Homo sapiens: one gene and its partners. The protein of the gene in region 3 purifies or fractionates together with the protein of the main gene of each other region. This does not show direct contact. Each region holds a gene or a part of one and is shown on either strand. Other genes may lie near its edges.

Evidence for each region.
Region 1: the proteins of VRK3 (region 3) and PDCD11 purify together in Homo sapiens (affinity purification with mass spectrometry; one large-scale study listed by BioGRID and IntAct). This does not show direct contact.
Region 2: the proteins of VRK3 (region 3) and JARID2 purify together in Homo sapiens (affinity purification with mass spectrometry, with the first as the bait; one large-scale study listed by BioGRID). This does not show direct contact.
Region 4: the proteins of VRK3 (region 3) and PRKCE purify together in Homo sapiens (affinity purification with mass spectrometry; one large-scale study listed by BioGRID and IntAct). This does not show direct contact.

What each region holds. Positions count from the first base shown.
Region 1 is NC_000010.11:103,441,626-103,444,209, reverse strand, and holds part of PDCD11 (protein RRP5 homolog), read right to left. Parts: intron 2,385-2,584; coding exon 2,235-2,384; intron 2,001-2,234; coding exon of another isoform or gene 1,998-2,000; coding exon 1,750-1,997; intron 1,046-1,749; coding exon 877-1,045; intron 296-876; coding exon 142-295; intron 1-141. UniProt on the Homo sapiens protein: Essential for the generation of mature 18S rRNA, specifically necessary for cleavages at sites A0, 1 and 2 of the 47S precursor. Directly interacts with U3 snoRNA. Involved in the biogenesis of rRNA.
Region 2 is NC_000006.12:15,249,069-15,252,568, forward strand, and holds part of JARID2 (protein Jumonji), read left to right. Parts: intron 1-3,500.
Region 3 is NC_000019.10:50,021,387-50,027,638, forward strand, and holds the start of VRK3 (serine/threonine-protein kinase VRK3), read right to left. Parts: upstream 3,987-6,252; 5' UTR 3,881-3,986; exon of another isoform or gene 3,529-3,880; intron 1-3,528. UniProt on the Homo sapiens protein: Plays a role in the regulation of the cell cycle by phosphorylating the nuclear envelope protein barrier-to-autointegration factor/BAF that is required for disassembly and reassembly, respectively, of the nuclear envelope during mitosis.
Region 4 is NC_000002.12:46,179,675-46,183,174, forward strand, and holds part of PRKCE (protein kinase C epsilon type), read left to right. Parts: intron 1-3,500.

The DNA of each region.
Region 1 (2,584 bases), on a different chromosome or scaffold from region 3:
CTGAGGGGCAGAGAATCAACAGGCAGCAAGAGGAAAGCCCTCACAAGGCTCTCCTGACTTAGAAGAAGCAATGCCACAGCCAGTTCCTACTCCCCGATCCTGGAGTGCTCATGGGCTCAGGAGCTGGGAATGAGCACTCACGCTCCTTGCTAGGCAGGCACTCCAGGGCTCGCTGCAGCACGCGGTGACTGGCTGCAGCCTGGCTCCTCCGCAGAAGGAAGGCGCCGTATTTGATCCACACAGCTTTCTCCTGCCGGAAACGCTTCAGCATCCGGTTGTAGAGTTCACCAGCTTCCTGTGGGAAAAGACGAGGCACGCTGAGGAGAGTGTGATACTACAGAGGGGACAAGACAGACAAGCAGCAACACTCACAAGAAGCTAGACCTGGGCTCCCAGACACCAAATCACTCTCAGGGCCTAATGCTAGAGACCTGAGAGGAGCGGGAGGGAGGCTCACAGAAGGGCACCGTGAACAGGCACAACACGACGGAGGGGATTCCCTGCTGATCCGCACCCATGGGAGGGCGGTCCTAGCCTAGAACATGAGAATGACAAGGGGGAGTAGGAGAGACGCCAGAGCGGATGCTGGGCCGGGACGTCCCCTTCTGTCTGTGATGCCCTGCCAGCAGCCCAAGGCAGACACACCAGGGGTCCACTGCCCCTTCACTTCCAAAGCCACTCCTTCCCTCACCTTGACCCCACAGGCCTGAAGAAGAGGTGAGGGAAATGACTTCTTTTACTTGGAAGATAGGGAAGTTGGGGCCCCGATGTTGGGTGGCAAGCTCACAGCAGGACTGGACCCAGCACCCCAGGGGCTCTTCTCTGAGATTGTGGCCCTGGAACTCCCAGGAGTTCGTCTGTGGCCCAACCTCCTACCTGGAATTTCTCTGACTTGGCGTAGATGTCAGCCAGGTGGAGAAAGACTTTGAGAGGCTCGTTGTACTGCACGGCTCGCTCAAAGACCTTGGTCAGGGACTCCTGAGAGCCGTACATGTTCTCCAGGTTCAGCAGAGCCACCCACACGTTCAGCTTCTCCTGCTCCTCTCTGGAGGGAGAGCAGTCAGCACATGAGCGCCACATGAAACCAGTGAGCCTCCCGCCCCATCCAGACAGACTCAGGAACCACCTCCCCCTCCCAGCCTCTATCTGTGTCCTCAGATCCCACCCCAAATGTAGACCCTAAGAGGCTGTGTCCCCACAGCTCCTGCAGCATTAGAAACCCCTGCCCCAACCCCAATGGCTGAGTCTGAGGCTCTCCTGGATTCTGCCTCCATTCCTAGAAAGGATGCCCACCAGATCCCAAACGGGCCTGAGGTTTGGGCTGGACGCAGAGTCCTGGGTCTGATTCTCTCTTCAAGCTAAGAGGATGAAGCAAAGGACTGCCTTCCCTCTTCATTAGGCCTCAAAAACTCCCTCTGTTTGGAAAACCACCACAGGGATTTCGCCCAGGTATGTAGTGAGTTCTTTTCTTACTGTGTTTCTGCTCAAACTGGTTCCCTCATATAAGTGTATGGACTCTTGTGAAGGTTACCCTTAGCAGTTTCAGGGAAGAAGACTATAAAATATAAATGAGTAGATCTATTTCACAGATGGCCGCAGCTATGGCAGAAAGCCTGAGGACCCATGGGCCCCTGGTGGCAGCCACCCAAAATGCTGCCGGCCTGCCTAGGAGGAGCTACCCCACAGGTTGAGAAACTTCCCAGCCCAGAACGTGCGAAGACACTGTGCTCCCTGGGGCAAAGCTGAGACCTGAAGGAGATGGTCTTAAGGGCCCTCTCAGCCACGGCACGGGCCTTCTCGATCTCCGTGGCCTGCAGGTGGAAAGCCATGTACTGCAGCCACAGAATGGAGCTGTTGGGGGAGCTCAGCACCAGTCGGTCAAAATCATCCGCGGACTCTGGCTGCCGCCCAGGATCCATCAGCGCCTCCTCAATGCGGGACAGTTCCTTCTCTGCCTTCTGCTTCTCCAACTCCCTTTCTTTCTTGCTTTTCTTTATCTGCTATGGAAAGCAGAAACACCGTGAGTCATCTGCTCCTCAAGGCCTAGGGGAGGTCTGTGGTGGAAGTCACGAGTTGGCTGGGCAGCCCAGGGCTCTATATATACCCCCTGGCCTGGGACTGGCCGCTGCCCCCTCCCCCACTCACCCAGGAAGACACCCAGTCTAGGAACAGAGCACAAGAGACTGACACCAAGGGGTCCCTGCAAAAAGGACATGCCCTGCAAAATACAGCACCGTGGCTTGGTGTGGCTTCTCATCCTCCTCGCTGTCTGAGCTCTCTGCTAGAGGTGGCAAGGCCGGGGTCAGAGAGTCTAGTCCCACATTCCAAGCGAAGCCTGAAGACAGCTGCAGCCGGGGCGCTTCTGCTGGCTTGGTTTGCTTCTCCTGGAGGAACACAGAGGCGCTAAAGAAAGCACCTGGCTCAGGCTGCTCCCTGTTCCCCCGTGCCAGCCCACCTGGAGGAGCATGGACTCCTACCAAGCCCAGAGACCCCTCCTCTCCTCTCCTCTCCTCCTAGGCCATGCCAGGCCCCAGCCCACTGGGGAAACTTTATAGCAGTGACATAAAAGTTTTCTTTGTAAATA
Region 2 (3,500 bases), on a different chromosome or scaffold from region 3:
AATGTTTTCACTTCCTCTGTTCCAGGTCTCCTGATGGTGTTGCATTACTAGCGTGGTGCATGTGTCCCCTCTCCAGTGCTTATGTAAAGAAATGAAAGTATTCAGGGAAAGCTGTGCTTTGTTGGAGGACCGCGTTGTGGATTTGGCCACCTTGTCACTTGAAGTCGTGTTAGGGGTGCTTCAGCAGGATGTGGCCGGATGCCTTTCATGATGATGCTGCACAGCAGCAACTGTTGCTCTTTCTGGAAGCTTTGTGGTACTACGGTGGGGGGGCTTTCCTTTGCTGTGCCGGCTCTGTACCTACTGACTGTTATTTTGGGGGGCTGGACCAAAGGAAGACTTGTCATTGATAAATGTACTGAGAAGAGCACAGGACTCCTTTAAGTCTCAAGGTGCTCTGGGCTTAGTTCTTCTGAGCAGGGAAACCAGAGGCTGGCGTTCTGTTTTCTCTTTTGTAAAATGGAAAAATACCTGCCATTGCCACTTAACTAAGTCACTGAAAAGATCATGTGCATGGAAGATGTAAAACAGTATGCCTCTTTATAAGTAAGGTGGCATTATTACTTGAGCTGGTGGAAGGCAGCACGTTTCCCACAATTGGTCTCAAAAGCCCGGGATGCCTGCTGAGTTGCCATTTAGTTTATTACCTTAGCAAAGCAGAGTTGGGGGTGCGATTGTCGATAGTAGGCTTTGGGAGAAATGATTGTTATATTTCGTAATAAATGATGTCCTTGAGAAACTCATAAGTTGCAGTGTAATCCTGTCTTAATTGTGTTGAGCACGACTCCCACTGCAATACCTTAAATAACTGAAAACATTTGCCTTTGAAAGCCCCAATCGACTTGGACAATAAAAACAGTTGCATGTTTTGCTCTAGAGATATTTTCTGCCGTTTCCATCATTCCACTGCCTGGTTATTCCTAGGGAGAATAACAGATAGGATACTGGGGCTTCACCACTATTTGATCAGGTATCAGTTTGAAATAGAGAATCTCTGCCTTATGAAGATAGTAATTCCTGTAGTTAGCATGAAAACAAATTGCCAGTTTGATTTTCTAGGACAGCTCAAGCAGAATTTGTACCACTAGGCTGTAAGTTTTAAGTATCTAATTTTCTGATTTGAAAGTGTATGATTTAAAAATTGGAAAAAGTTTTTGTTATAAGCTTCAAAAGGATTTACTATAATTACAACTACGTAAAATTACAAAGAAAAAAGTAGGAAGAACACAAAATATACAGTGGTTGGATTTATGAGGTTTTTTGTTTTAAAACTTATTCATCACAAATTGTTCAGTCACGTTATTTTACAGTTGGTGGGGTGGTGGGGAAATTTGCACGTTATTTTATTGCTGTATTTTTTCTTTCCTGGGATGTTTACGTGGCTTTTCAGTTACTTGTTTCTAGTAGTGGAAAATCTTGCTCTGTGTTACTTAGGTGCAGGGCAGTGGCAGTTTAGCTCCTATCACTGTACAGGGACAGTATGGAAGGAAGACACAATGAAGTCCAAAGTGTCACTAAAATTTGAAAGAAAAATTATGTCGACAAGTAATCCAACTTGGTTTATTATCCAGGTTATATTATTTTACAGTAGGCTAATACCTAACTTGTGTGTCCCTGTAGCCACTGGCCCAAATAGACAACTAGAATTATTTGGTACTCGGTAATGCCTGTTTCCTCATAGTGGGTTAAACCAGTCCCTGTTGCTGGGCTGAAGGCTATTGACGCACTTCCAAGTGCCTTGGAAATAACTCCAGTGTTAATATATACCGTACTCCAAATGTTAAACTTTCCTCCTTCAGAACAAGACAATCTTTTGGAGTATATAATTGGTGTCTGTTACCTTCAAAATGGAACTTTTTTTTTTTTTTCAGAGAAGACACGAGAATGTCATATTAAAAGCGTAGTTCGTTAAAACACTTGGTGAAGGCTAACCTAGAGAGCATTTGTTTTTTTGTTTCCTTTTTTTTTTGAGACAGGGTCTTGCTCAGCCACCCAGGCTGGAACGCAGTGGTTCCTCACTGCAACCACTGTCTTCCGGGTTCAATCGATTCTCCTGTCTCAGCCTCCCGAGTAGGTGGGATTACAGGCACCCCCTATCATGTCCGGCTAATTTTTGTATTTTAGTAGAGATGGAGTTTCATTTCACCATATTGGCCTAGCTGGTCTTGAACTCCTGACCTCAGGTGATCTGCCCGCCTTGGCCTCCCAAAGTGCTGGGATTACAGGCGTGAGCCACTGCACCCAGCCAGCTGAACATTTTTAAGCTAGTGGTTTGCCCTTGCTCATGATGGTGTGAGGACTCACACTCCTGACATTGTCTGAATTCTGGCTGCATTGCTCTGATCATCCTGATGTTACTGGTCCACGTCTCCCCCAGGATTACAGTAGTAGCAGCTCTACTAACCACCTTTTGTCTACCCATCCTGCTTGCCCTGTTGGCTGCAGTATGTCCTGACTGATATCCCAGGATACAGGTCCTGGCCACCTCTGGGATGTACCTCTGTCCCCTTTGGCTTTCACCCAGAAGTCTTGCCAAGTGTCAGTTGTTTGTTCCCAAATCTGGTTATTCCAGTTGGGCTTATTATTGTAATTACAGTTAAGTATTATGTCAACCTTGAAACAGTGTGAAAAAGAGCGTGGTGGCTCATGCCTGTAATCCCAGCACTTTGGGAGGCTGAGGTGGGCGGATCATGAGGGTCAGGAGTTCAAGCCCAGCCTGACCAACATGGTGAAACCCCGTCTCTACTAAAAATACAAAAATTACCCGGGCATGGTGGCGCATGCCTGTAATCCCAGCTACTCGGGAGGCTGAGGCAGCAGAATTACTTGAACCCAGGAGGCGGAGGTTGCGGTGAGCCGCTTGAACCTGGGAGGCGGAGGTTGCAGTGAGCCGCTTGAACCTGGGAGGCGGAGGTTGCAGTGAGCTGAGATCCTGCCACTGCGTTCCAGCCTGGGCAAAAGAGTGAGACTCCATTCAAAAAAAAATGTGGGCCAGACATTTTTAAGATGTTTGGGAAAATCTGAAAGGACTGTCCACACACATTGCTTTGCAAGTGATTCCCTTTTAAGAACCAAACTTCAGTTATGCCCAGACTTCCCCAACAATCAAAACAGCATAATGTAGAACAACAGAACGTTCAGAGACTTAAGCTCAGAAAGAAGACCCATGGCCTCATATCAAAAAAACCGTAATTAAAAGTAGATTTGTCTGTCAGTTAATACAAAATGTTAGGGAATACCTTTTTTTTTTAAAAATTGTTTGTTATCTAACAAACTTGTTCCCATTAACTAACCAACTTCTGGTTCTTGTCATCTCTGATAAGAGTGCTTCCAACTGTGTTTAGCCTTAATCCCCGCATGCTAAACTGGACTCCCTGTCTGCTTCATGCCATGTAACATGTAAAGTGTGGATCAGTTTAAAGTAGTCCTACTGAGGTGATTGTATTACTTTTGGAGTTAAAATAATTGTGCCATTTACTGAGTGGCAGGGAGCAGAAAGA
Region 3 (6,252 bases):
CATAAAAAACAACTTGCACCTGGCTGGCTCGCTCAGGATGCTCACCCATGGAAGCCAGTTTCCACGGCATGAGGCAGCCTAAAGTAGCCCAGGCAGAGAAACCACATGGAGAGGCTCAGGTGGAGAGGAACTGAGGCCCCTGGCCAACAGCCACCATCAGCTGCTGGGTGAGTGGGCAAGTCCTCAGACCACTTAAACCCCAGCCTTCAAGTCTTCCTGCTAAGGCACAGGCACTGGGGAGCAGAAACAGGCCACCTCACTGTGCTCACTCTGAATTCCTGGCCCATAGGATCCATGGGCACAAGAAATGGTGGTTCTACACCAGTGAATTGTGGGACGATTTGTTCTCTAGACATAGTAACCGGGACAGGGAGTCCCTGCTGCACAGAGAGGTCAAGTCACTCACTTAAGACGGTTCTCATTTCATGACAGTTCAGTATGTGCAGACCACTGTGCTAAGTTCTCGGCAGGTATTATCTACAGAACCTTCCCAATCACCCTTTTCAAGGTAAGAATGATTTCCCCTTTGGGGAGATGAGAAGCAGAGGCTCAGAGAGCAAATGACTTGCCCAGGGCCACAAACCTCTTAAGCGGCGAGCCAGACACATGATTTTGTTTAATCTTTCCCTCCACTCTATGAGGTAGGGATGATTATCCCATCTTTGAAACCTACAAAATGATGCTCAAAGGGTGACAATTCTCCTTCCCCCAGACCTGACTCCACTCACCTAGAAAACAGTGGGGACGCAGCTGAAATCCAGAACCCAAAAGCCCATGTTCTTCACCTGGTGCCAATTTATACAACGAAAACGCAAAACCGGACTGGGTTCTTGGGGCAGCAGGTCAGAACATTCTTGTAGATTTAAATCTGGAAGCTGATGTTGGGTGTGGAACCACGGCAAGAGAGTCTTTTAACCATGTGCCACCCCCGGTTCTGACACCGTCACCAGCCTGGTCTAGGCCACCATCTCTCCCTTGTGCTACTGCAGCAGCCTCCTAACTAGACTTTCGGCTTCTACGCTTGTCCCTACAATCTATTTTCAACCCAGTAGCTTGACGGATCCACTTAAAATCTAAGTCAGACCCTGTCTGTGTCCCTGCCCTGGCCCATATGGTGGGTCGGACACGGTGGCTCACGCCTGTGATCCCAGCACTTTGGGAGGCCGAGGTGGGCGGATCACGTGAGGTTAGGAGTTCCAGACCAGCCTGGACAACATGGTGAAACCCCGTCTCTACTAAAAAAGTACAAAAAAAAAAATCAGCCGGGCGTGGTGGTGGGCACCCGTAATCCCAGCTACTTGGGAGGCTGAGGCGCAAGAGTCGCTTGAACCTGGGAGGCAGAGGTTGCAATGAGCCAAGATTGCACCGCTGCACTCCAGCCTGGGCAACAGAGCAAGACTCAGTCTCATAAATAAACAAATAAATAAATAAAATGTAAGTCAGACCCTGTCCCTCCTCTACTCAAAACCGTATGGTGGATTTCATTTTAGACAGAATAAATGCTGAAATTCCTACCATGGCCCAGGAGCCCCCTGTATGATCTGCCACTTCCCTGTTCCCTCTCTGACCTCTCCCACCTCTCCCCTTGCTCACGCTGAGTCAGCCACAACAGCTTCGGTGCTTTTCCCCAATCGTGACAAGAACGTTTCTTCCCCAAGACCTTTGCACCTGCTCTCCCATCTGCCTGGAACGCTGTCCCCCTAAGAGTGCACACAGTTAACTTCCTCATCACATTCTTTAGCTCTCTGTTCAAATGTCACCTTCTCAGAGACCTTCTTGGACACGATTTTACTGTGTTTTTTCTTTTCTTTTTTTTGAGATGGAGTTTGGCTCTTTTCGCCCAGGCTGGAGTGCAATGGCACGATCTCGGCTTACTGCAAACTCTGCCTCCCGAGTTCAAGTGATTCTCCTGCCTCAGCCTCCCATGTAGTTGGGATTACAGATGCGTGTCACCACGCCTGGCTAATTTTATATTTTTAGTAGAGATGGGGTTTCACCATGTTGGCCAGGCTGGTCTTAAACTCCTGACCTCAGGTGATCCCCCTCAGCCTCCCAAAGTCCTGGGATTACAGGCTCGAGCCACCGTGCCTGGCCCTGGACACCATTTTACTAATAGCATGTTTTATCCTCCTTACCTTGCTTTATTTTTCTTCACAGTGCTTGTCACTACCTGACATACTCTGACTTACTAGAATGTAAGCTTCATGATGGCGGGGACTTTTCCCTGCCTTGTTTGCCACAGTGTGCCCAGAGCCTCAAACAGGCCTGGCACAGAGCAAATGCTGGGTCTACGTCTGCTGAGTGAATAAATCATTGTCTCCTTTGCAAAAGAAAATGTGCCAAGAAGGTGGGTGGGGGGGGTCCCCAGCTGTGTCAGTACACATTCATCTCTCAGGCAAATCTAGACATCCAGCCAGAGACTCAAAGCTCAGGGCCGGAATTATCTAGCTGGATGGTCCCTAAAAAAGACGTGCCACTTAGAAGCAGATCAGTACAGGGGTTAAGAGGATAAACTTGGGAAATAATCTGCCTGGGTTTGGATCTTGCTTCTGCCATGTATTGCATGATGGACAGAGTTTTGCTATGTCACCCAGGTTGGAGAGCAGTGGCACGACCTCAGCTCACTTGCAACCTCCGCTTCCTGGGTTCAAGCGATTCTCCCTGCCTCAACCTCCCGAGTAGCTGGGATTACAGGCGCATGCCACCATGCCCGGCTAATTTTTTTATTTTTAGTAGAGATGGGGTTTCACCATGTTGGCCAGGCTGGTCTCGAACTCCTGAACCCAGGTGATCCGCCCACCTCGGTCTCCTAAAGTGCTGGGACTACAGGCGGGAGCCACCGTGCCCAGCCAAATTTTTTGGATTTTAGAACCTATTACATATTACAACACCGGCGAGATCCAGGGGCAACTCTCCATAAGTATATGATTTGCACAACAAAATCTTTAAAAATTCTAAATAGTCACACATCAGTTCAGAGTGGGTATTGCCAGCAAACAAGTTCAAAGCCAGGTGAGGTTGGCCTGCCAAGTAAGTTGCAAAACAGAGAAAAAGACCTTTCAGTTTTCAGAACGTTTTGGATTTTAAAGTTATAGATAAGGGACTGCAGACCTGTAAATATTCTTTAACATTTCTTTTTTAGTGTCTGGCATCCCCAACCACCCTGAGAATGTGAATTAGCTGGGCAGGATTTTTGTTTTAGACACTGCTATAATAACCTGGGCTTGAACAGTGCCTATTAGACTAGCACCGTTCAAACCCAGGTTATAGTAGTGTAATATCGGTTGCACGGAGCCTTCCATATAGTAAACGCTCAATAAAATTGGATGTGCTGAAGTCACCTATGCAATGGCCAGGTCAGGACTTGAAACCCTAAGACTCCAACCCTCAGGCCAGTCTTTATCTTAATTTATTTGACTTATTCAACAAATGTTTAGGGAACAGCTGCTATGCGTCAACTACTGTATAGTGTTCCTCCTAGAAAGTTCAGGAAACAGCACAGCAAAAAGGCTAAAAGTCAGACCCCACCTCAGCGCAGGTGGGGCGATTGCCTAGGCGACGACAGAGCCTCCCTTCGGCCGCACCTCCATAGAAACCACGGGATGACTTAGACGCCAAGTTTCACAGCGGAGGAGCTGTCGAACTTCCCACAAGTTCCGCCCATCTCCGCCTTAGCCATGCCCAACACGGAGCCCAAGGTGGCTTGGGAAGCTCAAGAGGAGGCCAGTGAACCCCGCGACCCGGAGCCGCTCTCATTCCGAACCCCGACAGCAGGGGCCTCCGCCTCCCACAAACGGTCGTGCTGACGTCACGGACGCCCCGGCCGAGCTGCGGCTAGGGGGTCGGGGGACGTCCCCTCGTTCGCCTCGCTTCCCCTCACCTCTGTACTTGGGGACTGGGGTGGGATTCTGGGCTTCTGCAGCCTGACCCTCGGATCCTCCGCAGTTACCCGGACTCACCTTCTCAGTTGCCCAGCGAAAACTTCCGCTGGGCGGAGAGCGCTGCGCGCGCATCCTGAATCTGAGGCGCCCGCGCAGGCGCCGCTGACTTCCTGACGGCCCCTGGGCTTCGCCTGCCTGGGAACTCCGTTTCCCAGATGCCTCCGCGGCAGGCCCGCCCTCTGATTCCAGACGGAATGGGGATTATTCCCTCATTGCTCATCCCCCTCCCCTCCGTTCTAGCCGCTTTGGAACGCCTTCTGGTTCTACTGCGCATGTGTCAGTGTCAGACCAATCGGAATGCACCGTGAGGTACCTCTCCACCAATCAGAGGTCACATTACCTAAACTTCTGCCTCAACTCCGCCCCTTACTTCCGCTTGTTTTCTCAGAAACCCGTCACAACGCGTTTCCATGGCAACCTACCGCTTGCTCTTCGGAAAAGGTTAACACTCCCTGACTTCTAGTAAAGGCAAGAAGCTAATTAGATGATTCTTTAACAAGGTAAAAATCTGGACTACAAACTGATGCCGCCTGGTCCTGATTCTCTTTCTACTCTACTCCCACAGTGCTAAGGCTGAAGAAGCAGGAGGAGATGGGAAGGCGAAAGAAGTCGCCCGCACAGCCCTCTGGGAAATAGAGTCCTGGCGCTGCCGCGGAGGATCCTGGGTGCAGCCGCTCAGAGAAGCTTCTCGCGCACAGGAAGTCGCTGCGAGGAGGCGCGTGTGCGGGGAGTTGAATCTCCCGCTCCCTTGAGGCTGGGGTTGCGTCTGTTGACGCGGCCGACTACAATCCCGAGGTACGGAGACGCTGGGGCTGAGGGACTTGCGGGCTCGGTCCTTCCTGAGAGGTGACGGAATGCAAGTGGGGGCGACTTCGGCAAAGGGTGCGTCGCCTTGGGCGGCGGTTGTCAGGGTGAAGGTGTGAACCGTCTTTCACAGTCTGTTATGAAAACCGCTCAAGGTCTGGGCACGGTAGATCACGCCTGTAATCCCAGCACTTTGGGAAGCCTTGGCGGGGGGGATCACTTACAGCCAGGAGTTCCTCGAACCCCCAGTCTCTACTAAAAATACAAAAATTAGTTGAGCGTGGTGGCGGGGGCCTGTAATCCCAGCTACTCAGGAGGCTGAGGCAGGAGAATCGCTTGAACCCAGGAGCTGGAGGTTGCAGTGAGCCGAGATCGCGCCATTGCACTCCAGCCTGGGTGACAGAGCGAGACTACATCTTAAAAAAAAAAAAAAAAAAAGAAAGGAAGAAAACCACCTTGGGAGGCTGAGGTGGGCGGATCGCTTGAGCCCAGGATTTCGAGGCTAGCCTGGGCCAGATGGTGAAGCCCTGTCTCCACAAAAGAAGAAAAAAATAGAAAAATTAGCCGGGCGTGGTGGTGCGCCCCTGTATTCCTAGCTAATTGGGAGGCCGAGGTGGGAGGATTGCTTGAACCCAGGAGGCAGAGGTTGCAGTGAGCTGAGAAAGAAAAGAAAAGAAAAGAAAACTGCTAAAGGGGTTTCCAGGCCTCCCTGATGGCCCTGAGAGGAGTGGTTCTGTTTTATTTTGGTTTTGGTTGGGGAAGGAGGGGAATGAGTTACCTGAAGTTGGCAAATTTAGGCAGAATCTTGCTGGACGATGGATGGGAGTTCTTCGGGAAGTTGAAGTACTTAACATTTACAGTATTTGAGTGCTTTCTGTGTGCCAGGCGCCCTGCTGGAGTTGCATTTCCTCTTCTGATCCCCGCAGCAGCACTGAGACATAAGTGCAGGTCCCCTTGGCACCAAGGCAATCTCGGGAATCAGAATTTTTCAGATTTTAGAAAGCTAATAGGGTGCATATTTTATAATTAGGCAGCACCCCCCCACACCCCGAGGAATCTGGGCCAGTTTTTGGTCATAAAATGTTTCTGTGGGGCAAGGTGTGAATATTCACACTTATGAGAACATTAAGACCCTACATGGCCTGTGGCAATCCAGGTGAAGTTTTGCGGTCAGTTTATAAATCAAGTTCTGGTTTTTGGAGCATTTAAAGGACCATAGATCTGTTGTATTTGTTCCATTTGGTACATGTGGAAACTAAGGCTTAGAGAAGGTAAATGGTCTGGAAGGAAGGGCAAGACTCTTGGGCCCAAGGTCTCTCAGCCTGATAATTGTTTGGCTTAAGTCACTCTGGGCTGGATGACCTTGGGCTCCACCTCTGGGCCCTCGTTTCTTTCCTCCCAGAGCTGAGAGTATATGAGATGTGGGCAGAATGTGATTTGGTAACTGCAGACAGGGATCTCAAGCTCAGCTGTCTGTGAGGGCCAGGCAGATGACATACAGGAAAGA
Region 4 (3,500 bases), on a different chromosome or scaffold from region 3:
TTTGTTTCTATCTTGTGTCAGCAATTAGAAAACTCTAGTGCCCCAAGTCCTGGGAGAAGAAATTTCATTAATTGGGCCTAAGCCTACCTGTTTTGCAGACCCCATGGGCCTAGTGATGGTCTGGGATGCCTGGCTCTAGGCCCTTCATGAATCAGACTACAGCCATCCCCCCCAACTCCCTGCCTCCACTTCCCAAAATCAAAACACCCCCTGACAGCACAGCAGCCCCTGACCCTGAACCCAGATCACGTTACTGGCTCTAGATAAAGTAGCAGCAAGAGAGGTGCATTTATTAATTTTTTCTAGCAGATATCTATGGAGTATGCAGTATGTGCCAGGCATTGTGCTAGGCTGGGGATAGAATGGTGAGTTCAACCCAGTCTCTGCCTGCAAGGAGCTCATAGATTAGTTGAAAAGAAGAGGCCTCCTCAGTGTGGTGAGTACTAAGTTAGGAGAGATGGTGAGGGCACCCACAAGAAGCTTTGCTCAAGCAGCCCTGGAGGGATGAGGAGGGTTCCTGAAGAAAGGGCATGTACATGGAGGTGGGGAAATTGCATGGATGTGGGGCAGAAGGCAGGGATAGGGGAGGGCATTCCAGGTAGAGGGCTAGCTATGCAAGGCTGGAGGCAAGAGAAAGCAGGAGGAAGCCCCATGGTTGGGCAGTGCCAGGGAGATGAACCTGGGGGATGAGGCAAGGACAAGCTCCTGAAGGGCCTCAGAAGCAGGTGAGCGAAAGAACTCAGGACTTTACCCCAAAAGCCGTGATGTGCAATGAAGCATCTCAATTGCTGGAGGAAGCACTAGGATGTTCAGGCAGGCCCAGGCTCAGTCCTAGTTCAGGATTTGGAGGCACAGAAAGAAAGGTAAGACTCAGCCCCTAACTTCAGGAAACTCACTGATGGGCAGATACCATGCACTGTGTTGGGAAACAACCAAGCTGTGCATGATGCATGCCCATGGCACACGAATGCTAAGATTTGAAGGCATGATGGGAGCTATCATTTATTGAGTGCACTCTGTATGCCAGGTTCTGCAGAAGGAACCTAATATCACATCTCACTCAGTCCTCAAGGAAACCTATAGTGTGCCTGTTACCACCCCCGTGTGACAGATGGAAAGACCACGGCTTAAAGAGGTTAACTTCACAGCGTCAATAACCAGGAAAGGATGGCACCAGAATGAGCTCAGCCGGTGATCTTCCTCCTACTCTATTCAGCCTTCCCTAAGTGTGGGCCAAAGGTTGTAGAAAAGGCTTCACGGATTAGGAAGGGACTGGCGAGTTAGAATGTTGTTCCCTGTGTCCCACTGTCATCTCTCAGGCTCTGCAGTGGGGGCCAGGAGCCTGACATTTAGGCATTAGGGGAGGCAGGGATGACTGAGGATCAGGATAAACAAGTGTCTCTGAGAGCCTGCCCCTCAGAATCTTTAAGTCGAGTCCAGTGCCTGCTCTGTGCGGGAGGTAGCAGCTTTTCAAAGAATAAAATCAGCGAGTAAAGAATATAATCTGCAGTTCTTTGCAAATTTGACGATGCTGTGCTGCCTACATACCATTAATAGGGGATGGGTTTTCCCAGAGATGTTTGCTTTGGAAAACTCCCAAGCCTCTACTGTTAACAGTTAGAGATTGCACATAGTGGGGATGGTTATTTGAATTAGAAATGGGTAACTCACATGCACCTGAAATGTCTCCAAGTAAAGTAGGGTAGGGGCCAAGTTGTATAAGGAGATGGGTGAGCCAAGTCTGTAACGATCATGAAGAATGGCATACTCTCTCAAATGCCACAGATGATTCTGGAACCTCAAGAATCTCAGAGCTGAGCTAAATGGCTCTCCAAGATAGCCCACCATGGAGCTAAGGTCCTCTGGAATGACACCACTAGCAGTATTGACTGAGCCTGGTTCCCTGATTCACAACAGCAAGTCGTGAAATTCAGACATCCTGTAGGATCTAGCTTTACCACTATGCTCAGTTGACCTCAAGAAATGAAACCAGCTTCCATGATTAACAGACACTAATGACCAACAGGTGAAACACAATCAGGTAAATGGGGAGAGCCAGTGCCAGAGGGCTTACAGATTTTCTGAAGTTCTTCATACACAGGTTCCCCTCATTAGCAGCCATCTGGGAGGGAGCTGGGGATGATTCTGAAACCTGGAGAATCCCGGTCACTATATCATACATTAGTTGAAAAGAGGGAGCCTCCTCAGTGTGGTGAGTGCCAAGTTAGGAGAGATGGTGAAGGCATCTCCTGCCTACACGCCTTGTACAGCCAGCCCTCTGCCTGGATTATACCGGTCTACCACATACCTGGGCAAGGCTCGTCCTTAGTGACGTTACAAATGGAATATTCTTCTTGCCCTATTCCTTGACTCTCTTTTTCTCCTTACTGCCACCCCTACTACTCCATTATCCCCTTCGGCTCCAGCTCCCCCGGCGTGGATGCTCCTGGCTTGCCTTCTGGGATGATACCCAGGGCTTCCCTAATTGTTGCCACAGCCTACCCAGCCCGCTCCTCCCTCTGGACTGACTCACTTCGCCAGGCACAGAGGGCCCATAGCCTGCAATCCTCCCCAGTCAGTGAATCCCTCCCCCTTCCACAGAGATCTTCAGAAGAGGTGTCGCCACACCCTTTGCCCAGGCGCCACCCTCCCGCGTCAGTGTGCGTCACCGTGGGGATGGTCTTTGTTGTTTCCCTCTCAAGCAGGGCCCTCCTTTTCCTCTTGTTCTGTACACACTGGAGAGGGAGAACAGATGGTCCTCCTGCCGGGGGCCAGCCCTCCTGGCAGAGGTGACCAAACCACCCGGCTTTCCCATCTCAGGGGCATCATGGACACCCCTCAGCTATAGGTTCTGTTTCTGGGGATCCCTTGGGTTTTCTGTGTGTCCCCCCCTTCCCCCTTCCAAGGTCTCTGAGACCTGCTGACCTATGCAGCTCAAGCCCAGAGAGAAGACACCAGGCAGGACTGGTGGTGCTAAAAGATGGTAGAAATCAGTTTGTCCCTCCTCCGTGCTGTTTGTGATTTTGATTTCAACCTGGGACGAGTTGAAAACAGTCCCCCGCGCAGCTCACCCGGCCCACGTTACCCACTATCTTCCCGGACTCACAGCTGTCTCCACCCATGCTTGCCTACTGGCAGGCCTTTCCGGCTTTATTTTGCCTAGTGGTGTTACCAAAATGTCTCCTGGTTGAACTTGACTCTTGTTATATCTTCCAATTTCTCCCGTGTCCAGATTTCCAGACCTTACCCACTGTGGAAGGCATCACACTGAAGCCCAGACATGAGTTCTGGGTCTGCTCTTACCCAGTCCAGTGACCCTGGGAAAGTCAACAAACCTCTCTGAGCCAGTTTCCTCATCTGCAGGATCAGGATGTTACCAGCCTGTTCTGAGGATCAAATGAGCGAATAAATGCAAAGATTCTTTGTAAACTGTAAACCAACATTCTCCAAACTGCATTCTGCAGACCCTGCTCTCAGGAGAGGTGTTCATAAACTATTTA